2 separate regions of the Homo sapiens genome follow, and region 1 is linked to region 2. Evidence: fine-mapped expression QTL. Tissue or cell type: unexposed skin. Region 2 holds a variant in brackets; the other region holds the start of a gene. All regions are shown on one strand. Distances are between the middles of the regions.

Region 1 (8,100 bases), 24 kb after region 2:
AGTCACAGGGGCATCAGCCAGGACCACCTGATTCACTGGTCTGCGCAGGAATGAGGGACGCTCTATGGAGTGGTAGTGAGTGAACAGTCAGGGTGTCTGCACGGCTACTTACTCTGCAGGCTACCTGTTCCCATAATGTCAAAATTCCCTGTGCCTACCCAGTACCATGACTTCAGCTGCCGCACTCTCCCGTTCTCCCGCCATGTTGGAGGCTACGCACACATACATGCCTGCATCGCTCTTGAGTGTATGTGACATCATCAGCTTCCCTCCACGGATCTGCAGAGCAATAATGGTAACTTTGGTCCATTTCAGCTATCACAGCGTATATATATATGGTGAATATATGTGTATATACATATGTATAAAGTTTATTTGATCCTCACAGCAAGCTGATAAAGGAGACCAAGGAAGTTGACCCACATATCAAATGGGAAGTTCCTGGGGCATCATGCCCCCGCCCCTTTTTTATACCAATTCCGTCTTCCTTATCCCTCACTGTATAGCTGACTCTTAGTCTCTGGTTAGCTAATGCCCTGATCTCAATCTCCAGCCTTGTCACCTCCCTACCCTATGTCCCCTCCCTTGTTGGGGTCTCCAATCATAATCCCGCCCTCACCGTGATCCTTCCTTCCTCTTCCTTGAGTCTTGCACCGTCCTTCCTCCAGGACACGGAAGGCTCCGGGTGGCCGCGGGGGGGCACGCATTCCAGTACTGCTGGCTCCCCCACTGCCACCACCACGTTTCCAGGAGACTGCCGGAAATCATCACGGAGGACTGGGCGGGGCGGTGGGGGGCGAAATAAGCAGGGTGTAGAGTGACATAACTGGCTGAGGACACAGGGAAAGTGTTGTCTTGGGAAGGGGTTGATCGCTGCAGACTGGAATTCGTTCCCAGGTGAGAAAATATCAGCCTGGAGTCAGATCCACTTCCTTCTCTGGCCGTGGTGTGGCCATTAGAGATCAAAGGTCGCGGTCCCAAAGAAGGATGCTGAGTGGGCTGAAGTCCTTTGGGGCTGGTTCTGGGTCTGATTGCCCAGTGCCCTCCCGCCTACCCCAGGCTCTGGAAGCAACCAGCTGACGGTCAACTGACTCTCACCTGCCACTTCCAGCGAGGCGTTTCTGCTCGCTGCTGCCCCCAGGTAGTTGCGAGCCACGCAAGTGTAGACACCTTCGTCCGGCCGCGCGCGGCGCCCGTGCACGATGCGCGGGAAGAAGAGGGCGCCGCTGGGCAGCAGCAGGCGGTGCGCACGCGGATCCTCCCGCACAGTGGCCACACGCGCCCCGTTCTTGTACCACTCAATGTTGGGTCGGGGTCGGCCTTCAGCGCGGCAGGGCAACGTGGCGGGCTCGCCTCGGGAGACCAGCAGATCTGGCGGCTGCTCCACGATGCGGGGCATAGCGTCCTCCGGTCCTACCCTTGACCCTGGGGACAGGGGGTGGCGCAGAGCGTTCAGACAGGGAAATTGTGGGGAGAGATTGAGGCTCCAGAGGGAAAGAGAATCCTCTGGTCGTTCCATCTCCTATGCTTCTCTGCGGAGCTCAGTCCCCACCTGCCTACCCTCTCCCTCTGCAGGATCCAATATGTCCTTATTGGCAGACGTTCCGCGTTCCTCGTCTCAAAGGAAGATGCCTACAGACAGGCCGGTTAGTAGAGGGATCGGGACACAAACTTCTAGGCCGGCTTTCTGGACCACCTAGAGACCTCCGTCTCCTCTCCTGCCAAGTTTAAGCGGGAGTGGCTGAACCACGCTTGGCGAGTAGACCGCTCCCTCGCCTCCTGCCCAGTGGTTTCCATCTCCACCTGCACTGGTTCACGGATCGTCCTTGCTCAGTGAAAGACCATAAACCGTGCACTGGAGCCAACAGTTTGTTCTTGACTTCTGCAAGGTCCTGGCTCAGTGAAATTGGGAATGTGGACTGGCTTGGGATCCCTTATGAAAGGCAAGACGGGAGTGACAGGGCCGGGCCTAGAAGGGCTTGTCAACCTGGATTCTATGAATCGGCACAGGGCCCTTCTTACTGACACCCCGGATAATCACGCTTCATTTCAAGGGTCCTGTGAAGTCACAGGAATTGAACGCAAATAGCAGTAGAAATGTTAGTAAGGCTCCTTTTCCTGACAGGTGCATAGTTTCCAATAGATTATTCTACTGATTGATGTTCCTCTACTTCCCCTGTTCACTCCGATCAGTTCATCCACATATTCTGTCCTACCTGTCACTTGGCCTGCAGACTTTGGCCTGTTTCACCTTCTGCAGCACGGTTAGGATCCCGGAGCCTGTTATACTCCGGCACTCTCAGCCCCTAGTCCAGCCAACAAAAGTGGATTTGTAACCCGTGGCGGCCAGTAGGTGCCACTGCAGCCTTTAATAACCTGCTGTAAAATAACCAGGGACCACTTCAAGCATCTGTTCTGCCCCCTGCCCCCTCCCCCTGTTCCCCCCTTCCTACCCTGTTCCAAAATCTGCAGGAACCTCCCGCTTCCAGCCCGCCTGTGAGATTGGGTTTCATTTCCTGCCCCCCCTCTTAGAAGTTCTGTTGTAGACAAAGCTGGACAGGCTGACCCGTGCTGGCGCTGTTCTGAGTTTATTTTAATTGCCTGGAGTCAAGAAGATCGATTTCTGTCCCACTTGGGAGAGTAATTTTCTCCATCTCCTCCCTTCCAAATGGAAATCTCTGCTTTTCACCCTTCTCTTCTCCTCCATCTCCTCCCATTCCCAATTTTGGAACACCCCGTGGTGAGCAACACTGGAGTGATTGAGAGCAAGTGTTGCTGTTGAACCAACCAGGGCTGGAATCTCAGACTTTGACGCTTCCTAGCTGTAAGAACTTGGGCAAATTATTTAACTTCTCTCAGTCTCAGTTTCTTTCTTTGTGATGTGAGAGCAGTGATAGGGTTGCTCTAAGACCATAATGTATGTAAAGCCCTTGGGGGATAAACGTCACTACTCTGCCATTATTTAAGGGCTTGTGTTCCCAGCATATGCACCTTATCTTGGCTCCTACAGTCTCTACCTGAATCAAATTCTACCAGGCCCCAATATTCTTTTTTCCCCTTGGTATAGCCCTCAGGTGTAATGGAAATGGACTGATCTGTTATCGCTAGGTTTTGCTTCATGCTGCTTTTGTGACGATTAGGGCACCATTCACTCTATAAAGCGTTTTCTCGGCGGCAAAATGTGTCTGTCAACACCTTCCTTGCATACCTCACTAAGTTTCGAGCTTAGATGAGACAAAGTATGGTGAAAACACTCTGTAAACGCGCTAGGTGAGCAGAAGCGGGACTCTGCGGGGTGCCAGCGAGAAGGGATCTGTGCTTAACCTCCTGGAAATCTAGGAGGGTCAAGAGGTTGGAGAATCGGGCTCCTCCCCCATCGTCTTTCTCCCCAATCCTTCTATACGGACCACACCCTTCTGGTCGGCCTTTTCCCCCTAATTCCTGTAGACACAGCTGCAGGCGCCCTTTCCCTGGAATTTCCCCCTCTACCCTTCCCGGTCTCAGGAGATGCTTCGACTGCAGCCTAATGAATAGCTAATGGCCATGCTAATGAGGCTCTGGGGCTCCTCCCTCAGCACCTGATGTGCCCCACACATGAACACACACATATTGCCAGGGTCTCCTTTCTCTCCACCTTCGAGTCCCCAGCACAGTGCTCGTCACTAGACTCGAGTGGGTCGAGGCAGAGGGATGGGGACCGCGTGCACCTGGAGGGAACCACACGCGAAAGCGCCCGGTAAAGCGGGGGTTCCCGATGCGGCAGGCAGGGGGCGCGCTCCGGCCTCTCCGCAGGCTGGCGGCGGCCGGCTCCCGCAGCTTCCCCGCGGCGCTAGGGGAGAGCGCGCTGTCCCAGTCATTTATTAATCACCGTAATTAGCGGTAACGACCTCGCCGCCAGCTCCGCCCGCCCGCCACAGCTCTGCCGGGGTGGGCCGGCTGAGAGTCCCGCCGCTGAAAGACAAACTTCTAAGTTTCCTTAAAATGATCGCCGCCCCTATCCCCTCCGTAGCAAACACATCCAGCATTTTGGCTTCCTCTGGTCCTAAGTGAGTTCTTGGGAAACTTCGGGGTTCCGAAGACCAGCTGCCTGGGTGGGTCACCGAGTGACCTGGCTTGGCCGAGGCCGGCGGGAGACTGTGCCCCCTCCTCTGCCCTCCCTGCGCTGGGCCCGGGCCTTTCTTAGCTCGGACTTCCCTGCCCGTTACCAGCAACGGTTCTTCTCACCTGGGGTGGGCGTTGTAGGGGAAGGGAAGGAGGTGTAAAAAGACTCAGTAGCCATCTTCTCCCAAGCCCTCGACCTCCCGCGGGTACCCCCACTCATGTGCTCGAAGCTCCAAATTATCCCTTAGACCCCACGACCCAGGGAGGCGCTGGGAGGCGCCACTCAATCCCGGACCTCGGGACAGGAGCGCTTCTCCTTCCCTTCCACGCCGCCCTCTCACCTCATCCCCATCCCAGGATCCCATATCCCCAAGAGGCAGGGTCTCACCGTTGAGAGAGGGATCGCCGGGAGGCAGCAGGGTGTGGTTGAGCGCCGCCAGCGAGGAGTTGAAGCCCAAGAGCAGCTCGCTGGAGTTGGAGATGTCCCCGGCCAGAGAGTCCGCGAACAAGTTCATCTGCAGCAGCGTTTTCAGCAGGTAGCGCAGCATGGCTCGACCCAGCTGGGATCGGGACTGGGGGCTGGGGGCCCAGCCCCTGGGTCTGAGACCCGTGGGCTGGGAGCCGTAAGCCCCTCCACAGCCTCTGCGCGCTGCGGCAGCCACGGTGCCGCTCTCCTGCCGGTGCGCCTGGGTACGGTCGGTGCCTCTTCGTGCCCTCCTCCTTCCCTCGTCCTTCTCTCCACCCCCTAGTGCCGGAGTCCCCTGGGAGCTGGGCAGGCGGAAAGCAGGTGCCACGCCGATCACGGCGTAATTAAGGGATTAATCCGCCTCCCTCCACCCTCCCACCCTTACCTCTACAGTCACTATCCGAGCAGGAGACACGAGTAGCGTAGCGCGCGAGTTGGAGTCCCCGCCCCGCACCCCAAGCCCAGCGTTCCGTTCTGGACGCGGCGAGAGATTTTCCCTGTCTCAAAGCACCCAAGATGAGGGACGAGGCTCTGTCGGACTCTGCCCTTCTGCCCAACTTTAGAACAGGAATCTGTCCTCTCTTTTCCCGAACCTTTTGGAAACTGAGGCAAAGCGCAAGCAATGCTCCTTGCTGCCAAAGTTCTGGTTTCCATTCCCTCCCAAGTCTAGGGGTTTGGCGACGGAAGGGCAGGAGACTGGGGTGGTTTGCAGCAAGAGTTGGGAGTAGGCAGAGAATTCCAAGACAGGTCCACCTCTCTGCCCTCTGGTCCTTTGGTCTGCAGCCAGGAGGCCAGAGGATGGAGCGGCGCGCCCTGACCCGGGAGTCCTGCTCCAAACGCCCTAATCTAGGAGTTCCTGTAGGAGACTGAAAGCCAGGGAAACCCAGGCAACTGTCATTTATTTGAATCCTTTTACATTACCCTGCTTTGACATTTTTTATTAAATTGTTTTACGTTTTTGAGGAGACTGAAATGGAACCAAGGATTCTAGGACAAAAACAAAGATAATATTATTTTTGTAAAGGCATGTGGGATTGCTGCAAAATTAGTGCAAATCTGTTCAAATCGGATAGCAGTCGTCCTTCCTGGGGGGGGCGAAAAGAAAACCATGGGCCCCTACTCCCACCTCCCACTTCCAGTCGCGGTCTGCTTCTGACTTTTCTGGAGTTCTTTCTACCTGAAGACCCACCTCGACAAACTCACTTTCCTAGACAGGAGATGGCTTTGGGGTATCAGGGAAAGAGAGAGGCCGGGGCATTCCTAACCTGAGGTAAGGCCCTGCTGATTGAAGAGTCAGTGCCAGAGTTCTGGCTCAGCCGTCAGGTTCTGGGATGAGACAACTTTCATGGGGCGACTGCTTCTGACCCCAAAGGGGTCGAGATCAGAGGGGTGGGTGCTATACAGTCGCAGACTCTGGAGTAAGCAGAATCAAGAATTGAAATATTTCAGGCAGAGCTTGTTCAAGGGAACCCGAGACATTGTCAAGGGGTGGGGGGCTTGTTCCAAGCCTCCTTCCTCAGTCCAGGCGCCTGGCTGTGAGCCTCCAACTATGGGTGTTTAGGTGCCTTCCAACCCTAGCAGTTCTGGGCGGGACGTAGAAAGGCTGGAAGCACTAGGTGTGGGGGAGGGGGTAGGTGGGAGTGGGGGTGGGGCCGGATGGACCCCCCACCCCACCGCCACGCAGCGCCCTGGGAGCTGTCCTTTTCAGCACCTCATCTGCAGGTGCCTGACTAGGGCCCTGGAGCCCCCAGGGAAGACATAAATCCGAGCAGACCCTGAGGCTGAGGACTGGGGTAGGTGGGAGACGGGCTAGAGACACATCCTTTCAAAAGCAAGAAGATAATAAGAGATTTGACGCCCCTCCCTTCCTCGCTCCAGGGTGGTATTCAGATAAGAGAGAAAGTAAGGGATGTATTTCCCACCCGAAATCTATCCTTCAGGAATGACCAACACAGAAGTGGGTTCTAATTCTACGTTTGCCAAGTACAAGACGTCACCGCTTTGGATCTCAGTTTTCCCATCTGTTAAGGAGGAATTGGAGTGCTTGATCTACTCTGACCTGTGAGATTCGAGGCTCCGGGGCCCTTTGCTCCGCCCCCTGCTGACCGCGGTCACCTGGGTTCCATCACAGCAGAGGCTGAATCGGGATAGAAACCCCACGTCCTGGTACCAGGCCCTACTCTGGGGCGGAGGGGGCCAGAAACCCTCCCACCATGCGGCTCCTGCCCGGTCCTAATGCCCTGATTTGCTCCCGGCTGGCCTCTCCGCAAACACAGGGCCTGCCAGCGTCTAGGGGCTTGTCACCCTGTTAGCGGATTTGTTCCCGGAGACGGCGCAGTTAATTGGCCCTTTATGTGGGGATCAGGGCGTATTTGCTCAGGGTTCCCTGAGCGGAGGCGCGGCTCAACCCGTGAGCAAGGCTGCTTCACAGTCCCTGTCACGTGGGTTTGGAGGCTGGACAAATAGCCGGGCCACTCTACTTTCCAGGAATCTGCTGTCTCTCCTACACTTCACCTCGTCTGGGCTCTCTCTAATTTTCACTCTCCACTTTTTCTTGTTTCTCTCTGCTCTTTCCTTCTTTGTACTTCTCTTTATCTTGATGATACTCTCCTTTTAAACCAAACTCAGATCTAAGCCAAGAGGGCTGAGTTCTCCCAACTGGGGATATCAGAGAATAAATACCTCCCAACCATAACCTAAGTTCCCTCCCTTTTCCTTCCCATTCTCTAGTGTCCTTACGGCCCTGGGCTAGGCAGAGTGGAGCAGAGAGTGGGCAGAGAAGGCCCAGCAGAAGTCACACCTCCCAGCTCTTCTGCAGCCCTCTCCCCACCTTCTCTTCTTTACTGAGGGTCAGACAGGCAGCCTAGAAACTGGCCCTGCCCCTGTCCACATCCAGCTTCTCTCCTGGCTACCCCCATAGGCAGTTCTGAAAGGGGTTTGCCTCCTACTAGTCTCCTCACTGCCTGCTCTGCTCTCTGAAAATTACCAAGACAACTCTTTGTCCTTTTTCTGGAGTGGGTATGCAACTCTTTGCAACTATGTCCATTTCCTAATTTGTCAACTGTAAGTGCCTGTACAGCACCTAAAACACTGAGTAGATGCCCTGCAATTGGAGGAGCCTCAGCCGGGGTGCATTCATTCTGTTGACTTATAAATTTCCACCTTGGGCTGGAGAAAGAGTCAGAGTTGGGTTTAGAGACCCTCTCTTCTACCACCTCAGGAAACTACTTCTTTCCCAGAGTTTTACCAACAATATGTACAGTCCAGACTTTAGAAAGGGTAAGAAAAAGAAACAGAGGTTTTGAAGGAGATTTGGCAGAAAGAAGAGAGAGTAGCAGGAAGCAGGGAGGTTGGGGCGAGTTGAATTTGTAGAGTTAGGAGCTAAGTTTGTTCTGATAAGGTTACAGCATCTGATGGGAAGAAGTGTGTGTGTGTGTGTGTGTTTGCGTGTGTGTGCATGTGTGGGTTCACAGGTAGAGCCCTAGAAAAGAGCCCTGGGCCAGGAGTTGATGAGGTAATATAGAAGAGGAATA
Region 2 (8,100 bases):
GAGCAGACCCAGCTGGAAATCGCCACCCATATGCCAGGCTCCTACTGCGTGCAAGTGGCTGCAGTCACTGGTGCTGGAGCTGGGGAGCCCAGTAGACCTGTCTGCCTCCTTTTAGGTGAGGGCAGTGCCCACAGACCCACCCTACCCTTCAGCCTGCATCCCGCCTTCCTCTCTCCCTGCTCCCGCCTCACACTTCCAGCTCTTCCCCCTTGCCTGCCAGGCCCTCAATGCCTCGACTCCCTCTCCCTCTGAGCTCTGCATCCCATACAGAGCAGGCCATGGAGCGAGCCACCCAAGAACCCAGTGAGCATGGTCCCTGGACCCTGGAGCAGCTGAGGGCTACCTTGAAGCGGCCTGAGGTCATTGCCACCTGCGGTGTTGCACTCTGGCTGCTGCTTCTGGGCACCGCCGTGTGTATCCACCGCCGGCGCCGAGCTAGGGTGCACCTGGGCCCAGGTGAGAGTCTGAGGGGGACCCACATGTATACAGGCCTCCTCAGCATCCAGCCAGAATGGTGCAGGGGCTTTGGATCTCTGACCAGGTGATCCAGCCTCTGGATTTAGCTTTCCTCCTGCCTTCTCCCAGGTCTGTACAGATATACCAGTGAGGATGCCATCCTAAAACACAGGTGAGAGGTGAAAGGGGAGGTCTGAAGTAAGGGAGGGTGGCAAGGGACAGTGGAGCTGCAACAGAGAAGAATGGAGTACTAGTCTACCTGCCAGGGAGTTTGGGACTGTCGTACATGAATCTCTCCTGTAACTCCAACTGATAGTTCATTTCTCTGTCATTAATATTCCTATCACACCACTTGACAGACTAGTAAACTGAAACTCATAAAACCTTCTAAACCCCCAATCCAGGACTCTTGTCACCCCACCTCTCCTGCTGCCTCACCCGCTAGGTGGAGAATAATCAGCATGAGACGACCACCTCAAATGTCTCATCTTATGCGTGCACCCATGGTCTACCAAGTAGTGCCTTTGCACTCAGTAATTCTCTCACTGAGCCATTGTGCCTACATCATAGTCCACCCGCAGCTCCAGCAGAGGGTGTTCAGTGCCTACATCATAGATTCTTCCTCACTGTTCTCAAAAACAGGATCTGCCCATGGGCCCTTCTGCTTCCGGTATATTCGGCTGCCAGAACAAGTCTGCAGTTCTGGGACATCATGCTGATAGAGAACACATCCTTCTTGCTCCCGTTGTCTGAGTTTTGTACTAAGTAACCGCCTCATCTCTCTGTCTGCCTTCTTGGCTCTTTATTTCGCTAGATCTCCTCTGGGAGGCTTCCCACTCCAGGTCTGCATCTATCCACAGAAGTTACTGAGCACCTACTATGTGCCAGCAAATCCAGGCCTAGAGCTGCCATTTCACTGTCAGGTCCTCAGCCCAGAGCAGGGGTCCAAGCTGGCTGGTGTTGTGTTTTGAGTTTTCTGAGCTCACTGGCTTCTTTCTTCCAGCTACCTCCTGGCTTTGTCTGCTCTGCCTTAAGCTTTCTGTGGCTTCCCTAGGATCTCCTGCTCTGTCCTTGAGGGAGATTCCTTCTGATCTTTGGTTCATTCTTTCCTTTGGAATAGCCTCCACCTGCCAGAATCTCTCAGTGTAGGCAGAGACAGGCATGAGGGGATATGAGTGCAATCCTGTATTGGCCACGCAGAAGCAGGTACAAGACACATGGAGGGGGTCAATGTGGAAAAACATAGGAGAAAGAAGATTCCACATTACCCTGACAGTAAGAAGGGGATGGAGAGAAGAGCAATGAAGCAGCAAGTAATAGCCTGCTATGTCCACAGGGAAAGACAAACCATTTGTTCTGGCTCGGGTATAGGGTGTGAGATGGGTCAGAGCAAAGGCTATAGTTAGGGAGCTGGAAGCCAGACCAAGGAAGGTCCTCTTAGCCATGCTAGGTACCTGGGCTCTATCATGGTAAATGAGGGGCCATTGAAGGTCTTACGCAGAGAAGCTCCTTGCTCAGATCCCTGTTCTTGAAGGATCACTCAGGCAGCCAGAGGCCAATATCCATGGAGCAAGCTCCTGCTCTGCCAGCTGAGTGATCTCACATTTCCTCATATAAACCCAGACCATCAGTCTTGAGTGTGGAAGGCCCTATTGCCATCATTTTACAGATGAGAAAACTGGGGCTTAGAGAGGATGTACTTACCCAAGTGCAACAGATGTACTTACCCAAGCTAAGCTGTGACAGATAGAGATTGTCAAACCAGATTTGTCTTCAGGTCTTCTTTTTACCTCAGCATACATAGCTGTCTGTCATTACTACCTCCCAGCTCTGGGTGACTCGGATTTCCCCTCATCCAGGAATAAGAAAGGGGTGCTGGGTTTAGGGGACCAGGTCAGAGATCTTAAGGAGTCTGTGAAAAGCTGAAAAGCAGTAGTAAGGATAAAGCCACCATCTCCTTGCCCTCTTCTGCTGCCTCTGAACAGGAAGTCTTGGCCAAAAAGGTTCTCACTTCTCCCTGTTTCTCCTGGCCTCACCCCCTCCCTCCACTGCCCCAGGATGGATCACAGTGACTCCCAGTGGTTGGCAGACACTTGGCGTTCCACCTCTGGCTCTCGGGACCTGAGCAGCAGCAGCAGCCTCAGCAGTCGGCTGGGGGCGGATGCCCGGGACCCACTAGACTGTCGTCGCTCCTGTGAGCATGCTCAGTGGGGGCAAGGGCCTAGCTGGGGGCAGTGATCTCAGGGATGGAAAGCAGGACATGCTCACCATAATTCCTCCTGTCATTTATGTCACAGTGCTCTCCTGGGACTCCCGAAGCCCCGGCGTGCCCCTGCTTCCAGACACCAGCACTTTTTATGGCTCCCTCATCGCTGAGCTGCCCTCCAGTACCCCAGCCAGGCCAAGTCCCCAGGTCCCAGCTGTCAGGCGCCTCCCACCCCAGCTGGCCCAGCTCTCCAGCCCCTGTTCCAGCTCAGACAGCCTCTGCAGCCGCAGGGGACTCTCTTCTCCCCGCTTGTCTCTGGCCCCTGCAGAGGCTTGGAAGGCCAAAAAGAAGCAGGGTAAGGAGGGGGAGAATAGACATAGACTGAGCTGGTGGTAGGCGGGCCCAGGAATGGGAATGTGATGGGAACAAGGCCTCAAAGCCTGGAGGGGCGTGCAACCTCCACACCCTCCTTCCATTCTCCTCTCCAGGTGGACACAAGACCTCTTTCTCCTACCACCAGAGCACTCAGCTAGGGGTGCAATAGCCTCAGCTTTTTGCACTGTGCTCTTGTTTCAGTTTGGCTACACCAGCAGTGAGCCCTAATTCTGCACTCAATTCAACTCAGCAAACGTTTAATAAGCACCACTGCATGCCAAACATGGGGAACACAAGAGACGTCAGACACAGCCCCTGACTTCTAAGGGCTCAGGGCCTGTCTAACGAAAGTGTTGACTAGCAAACAAGTAATGCTAGAGCCTGGGGGAATGTGACCAGTGCTGGCACAAAGCCTCAGGCTCCCACGAGCTCATCTCCTGGTGTACTATGTACAGGTGTGCTTGGGCACCGACTCCCAACTCACTTCTCAGAGAGGAATGGGTATTTCCTTTCTGGACAGGTTTATCTCCTGACTCCCAGCTGCATTCTTAGACTTTTCAGAGAAAAATAATTATAGCCTCCATTTTTTATCAATTGCTATATACTAGGTGCTTTACTTATGTTTGTTATTTCATTTAATCCTCACAATAGATTGGCTAGCTACTATTTCTCTAATTTTACAGACAGGAAGAGGGTCAGAATGATTGAGTTACTGGTTCAAAATTCTGCAAGTAATTAGCTGCAGGACTCAAATCTGAAGGCAGGATAGTCTGCCTCTGAAGTGATTCTGAGTCTCTCTGGAGCTCCCTCAGGAAATCCTATTCTCTCTTTGAGTATTTTTTCCTATTTCTGGCCTGCAGAACATTGGCCTGCAATCTACCTGCTGTCTTCTTGAGTCTTCTGTACTAATTAGTAAGACCTAACAAATGTTCTACAGCCAAGTCTTTTTTTTAAGTGGATTTAATCCAACTTTTAATAAGACAAAGATGGATTAAGATAATTAACAGCTTGTTCAATATCCAGAATTTTATGACTGTAAATATCAGCGAAGCTGGCATTCTTACCAGCTTTGCCTCAGAGCTATTGCATTATAAATCCTTGGTGGTAACGAAACACCAGCTAAAAAAAAGGTGGAATAGTCTCATTTAAAAAACAGCCTTCCCAGGGAGAACTACACCAACTTTAATGGAATGGATAGCCCCTCTTAGAACAGTAATGCTACTGGAAAGAGGTGAGTGGTTTTCTACAGCCAGTTCTTAAGAAGGGTTCCAATTCTGAGATGAGGCTTCCTAGCCTGTGGTTTAGGTCCTTACTTCACTCCCTGTTTCTCCTCGCTCCAGCCCCATCTCACCACTGCCCCCAGGATAGGTCAACTGCAGCGACTCCTTGGCTGGTAGACACTAGATATTCTACCTCTACCTCCCAGGACCTCAGCAGCAACAAGATCATGCTATGGTCTTCTCCAGACCCATGGAGTTGATTCTACTGCTGTTTCTTCCTCTTCTAAAACTGGCAGGCTCTCCCAGTACC[A/C]CCCACTCCCCTTGACCTGCTTGTTCCTTTTTCTTATTATTTGGCCTTAGTTGGGGTTTCTTCTCCAGTGCTGATATCCTCACAATTACAGTCTCCTGTCTCTCATCCATCATAGCAGGTTCTTAGTTCTGCTCAGTTTGCCAGATATATGCACTGAATATCCTCATTCATTCATTATTTTATTCAAACAAATATTTATTGCAATTTGACCAATGAGTTTCAACCTTTCACCTTGATAACATTTTTCTTGTCCAGTTTATTCAATTAGAATTGAAACTAAAGTCCAAGTAACTCCAAGCAACATAGGAGGAGGGCTTTTGTTACCAGAGTCCCTTAGAGGAAGTGAAACAGGCTAGGATAAAAGTGGCCTTTTCCAGGCCTGGCTGTTTTCTTTCCCTTTCCACTCAAACCAGCCAACCAACTTGTGCTCATATTTCTGAGCTTAGTCAAGAAGCCAGGCACCAGACAAGACATAGCTGATGATAGCAGAGTTGGTGCACCAACCCTGAAGTTGGCTCCCCAGATTACCTGGGTCATATGAAAGCTATAGAAAATCAATAAAAACCAAACAGCCAAAGTACCAAAGGAAACTTTGACGGAGGGAGTCTAGTCATTGATGAGTTTTCATCCTAAAGGATCAGAAGGTCTGGCCACTAGTACATAAATGGGGTCTTGGTCAATGCCAAAGCCTGGCTCACTTCCCTTCTCTGAAGCTGCCCGTAGTGGCCCCCAGATCTCTGATATGTGACTGACTAGATAGCTCTACCCTGAAGGTCCTGCCTGGTCCCTGGTCCACCAAGAGGGGAAACTCTTTCCTAGCTGGGCTTCTGGTCATGGGACACTAATCTAAAGGCTGTTTCTTTTCTCCTTTGTCTGATGTTCTTCAGGTTCCTGCTCCTGGAAAAATCTCTCTCCTGTATTACCCTATTCCTCTCTGGCTTAAACTTAGATCCCTTTTGCATTCTGGTCTGACCAAGAAGCATGCTCACAGGTCATTGCACATAGTTAGGGCTGTCTCTTTAGTTTCCAGCTTCTCTGTTGTGAAAGTTCACTCAGAGCCCTGTCTCTCCACTGCCCATGTGGGCCAGATGACAGCTTCCATCTTCTAGGTGACTCTTCTCACTGTGTGTTTATATCCACATTTCTGATATCACCCATGCATTCACTCTTTCATTCAACAAAAAGTATGGGCAGGGCATTGCGTCCCTGGGATAGACCAATACCTTTTCCCACTCTGAAGTTCCTCTTCCTATTAGCTGACTGTCTCCTGTCACAGCCAACATTGTGTGTCGATCCCTGTTTTTGTCCTACCCACTCAGCTCAACCTGACAGTCTACCCCATCTTTCAAGTGAGAGACAGTCGAGTTTCCCAGAGCAGGGCTATCCAGAGCCATGTGAGATATTTGCAATGTGAGAAATGGAAATTAATAGATTCTGTCCAAGAAAAGAAGGAGTATTTTTCTTACTGAGCCAAAATTCATGAGAGTAGCAATGTGAGGGTATAGAGATCAGGAAGATTGGAATGAATACAGTCAAGGAAAAGAAAGTTGTTTTTTAAAGCATCTATCAAGGCCAAGAACTTGTGCAATCTGTTTTTACTTAATTGTCAAGACCATCATTCGAAGTGGTTGTTTACACATGAAACTGAGACTCAGAAAGGTACATGGACTGCCCTGAAGTCACACAGCTGAGCTGGGCAGGTCTTTTGACCCCAAGCCTAGTGCTCCTTCTACCCTATCACAGCTGCTGGATGAAGATGGGGGTGTGGAGGGGATTCAGGGGGTTCCCCCTCTTTTCTCTGGGTTCAGGGTCGTGCAGGCTGAATTGAATAAGGCTGAAGATAGAGCCAGCAGCTGGGGTCTGAAAAGTCCATCCTGGGCCCCACAACCACCAACCCTTTCTTTGCAGAGCTGCAGCATGCCAACAGTTCCCCACTGCTCCGGGGCAGCCACTCCTTGGAGCTCCGGGCCTGTGAGTTAGGAAATAGAGGTTCCAAGAACCTTTCCCAAAGCCCAGGTGAGAGGGGGTCCCTGAAAGGGAAGTGAAGGGGTGAGATAGGGTGTAGGGATGCAGGGGCTTACCAGCCCAGGGCCCTCCCACGGGCTCATCCTCCTTTCCCTGAGGAGGCTGATGAGGGTTGGATGGAGTAGTGGACAGGTAGCTAAGGGGGCTGGTGGGCAGGCCGGCAGGCTGAGCTCCAGAGCAGATGGGGATGCCACTGTTCTCACACCCAGGCTTCTCTTCCCCAGGAGCTGTGCCCCAAGCTCTGGTTGCCTGGCGGGCCCTGGGACCGAAACTCCTCAGCTCCTCAAATGAGCTGGTTACTCGTCATCTCCCTCCAGCACCCCTCTTTCCTCATGAAACTCCCCCAACTCAGAGTCAACAGACCCAGTAAGAGGGCATGGGGTCGGGAAGCAGGGCTGGGAGAGTGGGGGTGTGGGGAGTGTGTGCCGGGATTGGACAGGCTGGGGAAGGGGGGAAAGGACTTGAAGAGCTGTAGTAACTACGGTGCCATCACTCTCTCCCGCAAATCAGGCCTCCGGTGGCACCACAGGCTCCCTCCTCCATCCTGCTGCCAGCAGCCCCCATCCCCATCCTTAGCCCCTGCAGTCCCCCTAGCCCCCAGGCCTCTTCCCTCTCTGGCCCCAGCCCAGCTTCCAGTCGCCTGTCCAGCTCCTCACTGTCATCCCTGGGGGAGGATCAAGACAGCGTGCTGACCCCTGAGGAGGTAGCCCTGTGCTTGGAACTCAGTGAGGGTGAGGAGACTCCCAGGTGAGTAGCTTGAGAGATAACCAAAGAACTACAGAAAAGCTGTGGGGGCAAGCGCCTCTCCACCCATTCCGCCCTCCCTCAACTGGGGCTTTTCTGTTACTACAACCCTCATTCCACCCAAACCATTGCTGTCTCCCCTTTTGCCTCTCCCTAGGAACAGCGTCTCTCCCATGCCAAGGGCTCCTTCACCCCCCACCACCTATGGGTACATCAGCGTCCCAACAGCCTCAGAGTTCACGGACATGGGCAGGACTGGAGGAGGGGTGGGGCCCAAGGGGGGAGTCTTGCTGTGCCCACCTCGGCCCTGCCTCACCCCCACCCCCAGCGAGGGCTCCTTAGCCAATGGTTGGGGCTCAGCCTCTGAGGACAATGCCGCCAGCGCCAGAGCCAGCCTTGTCAGCTCCTCCGATGGCTCCTTCCTCGCTGATGCTCACTTTGCCCGGGCCCTGGCAGTGGCTGTGGATAGCTTTGGTTTCGGTCTAGAGCCCAGGGAGGCAGACTGCGTCTTCATAGGTATGTGAGGTCTCCCCATCTTACTCCTCACTCATGCCCCTTGCCTTTCTAACAACTGTTATCATGTCATCATTGTTAAAACAACTAGTTTTATTGAATGATTATTGTATCTCAGGCACTATGATAAGTGCTTTGCATACATTTAATATTGAAAGTCTATGTGGAATATTCTTTATCTCTCTTATCCTAATGAGGAAACTGTAAGTCAGATAATTTTATTGGCTTGCCCAAGTTCACCCACAGAACAA

Evidence for each region. PIP is the estimated chance that this variant, and not a neighbour inherited with it, causes the effect.
Region 1: it holds the start of ROBO3, and the variant in region 2 is fine-mapped to the expression of ROBO3 in unexposed skin (GTEx, PIP 0.96).

What each region holds. Positions count from the first base shown.
Region 1 is chr11:124,862,127-124,870,226 of GRCh38, reverse strand. ROBO3 (roundabout guidance receptor 3) reads right to left here and starts at 4,795. Exons shown (of 28, transcript NM_022370.4): 1 at 4,490-4,795; 2 at 1,099-1,425; 3 at 620-777; 4 at 159-279; 5 at 1-62. The coding sequence starts at 4,649. RefSeq lists enhancers at 1,223-1,753, 3,803-4,479, 6,819-7,320.
Region 2 is chr11:124,886,216-124,894,315 of GRCh38, reverse strand. ROBO4 (roundabout guidance receptor 4) reads left to right here. Exons shown (of 18, transcript NM_019055.6): 8 at 1-115; 9 at 271-456; 10 at 586-628; 11 at 2,514-2,650; 12 at 2,754-3,017; 13 at 6,476-6,583; 14 at 6,817-6,958; 15 at 7,103-7,339; 16 at 7,494-7,852. It overlaps LOC107984406 (a long non-coding RNA gene), which reads right to left and starts at 2,517. Exons shown (of 2, transcript XR_001748429.3): 1 at 2,184-2,517. RefSeq lists enhancers at 7,130-7,643, 7,644-8,100. The variant A/C (reference allele first, on the strand shown) is at 4,568.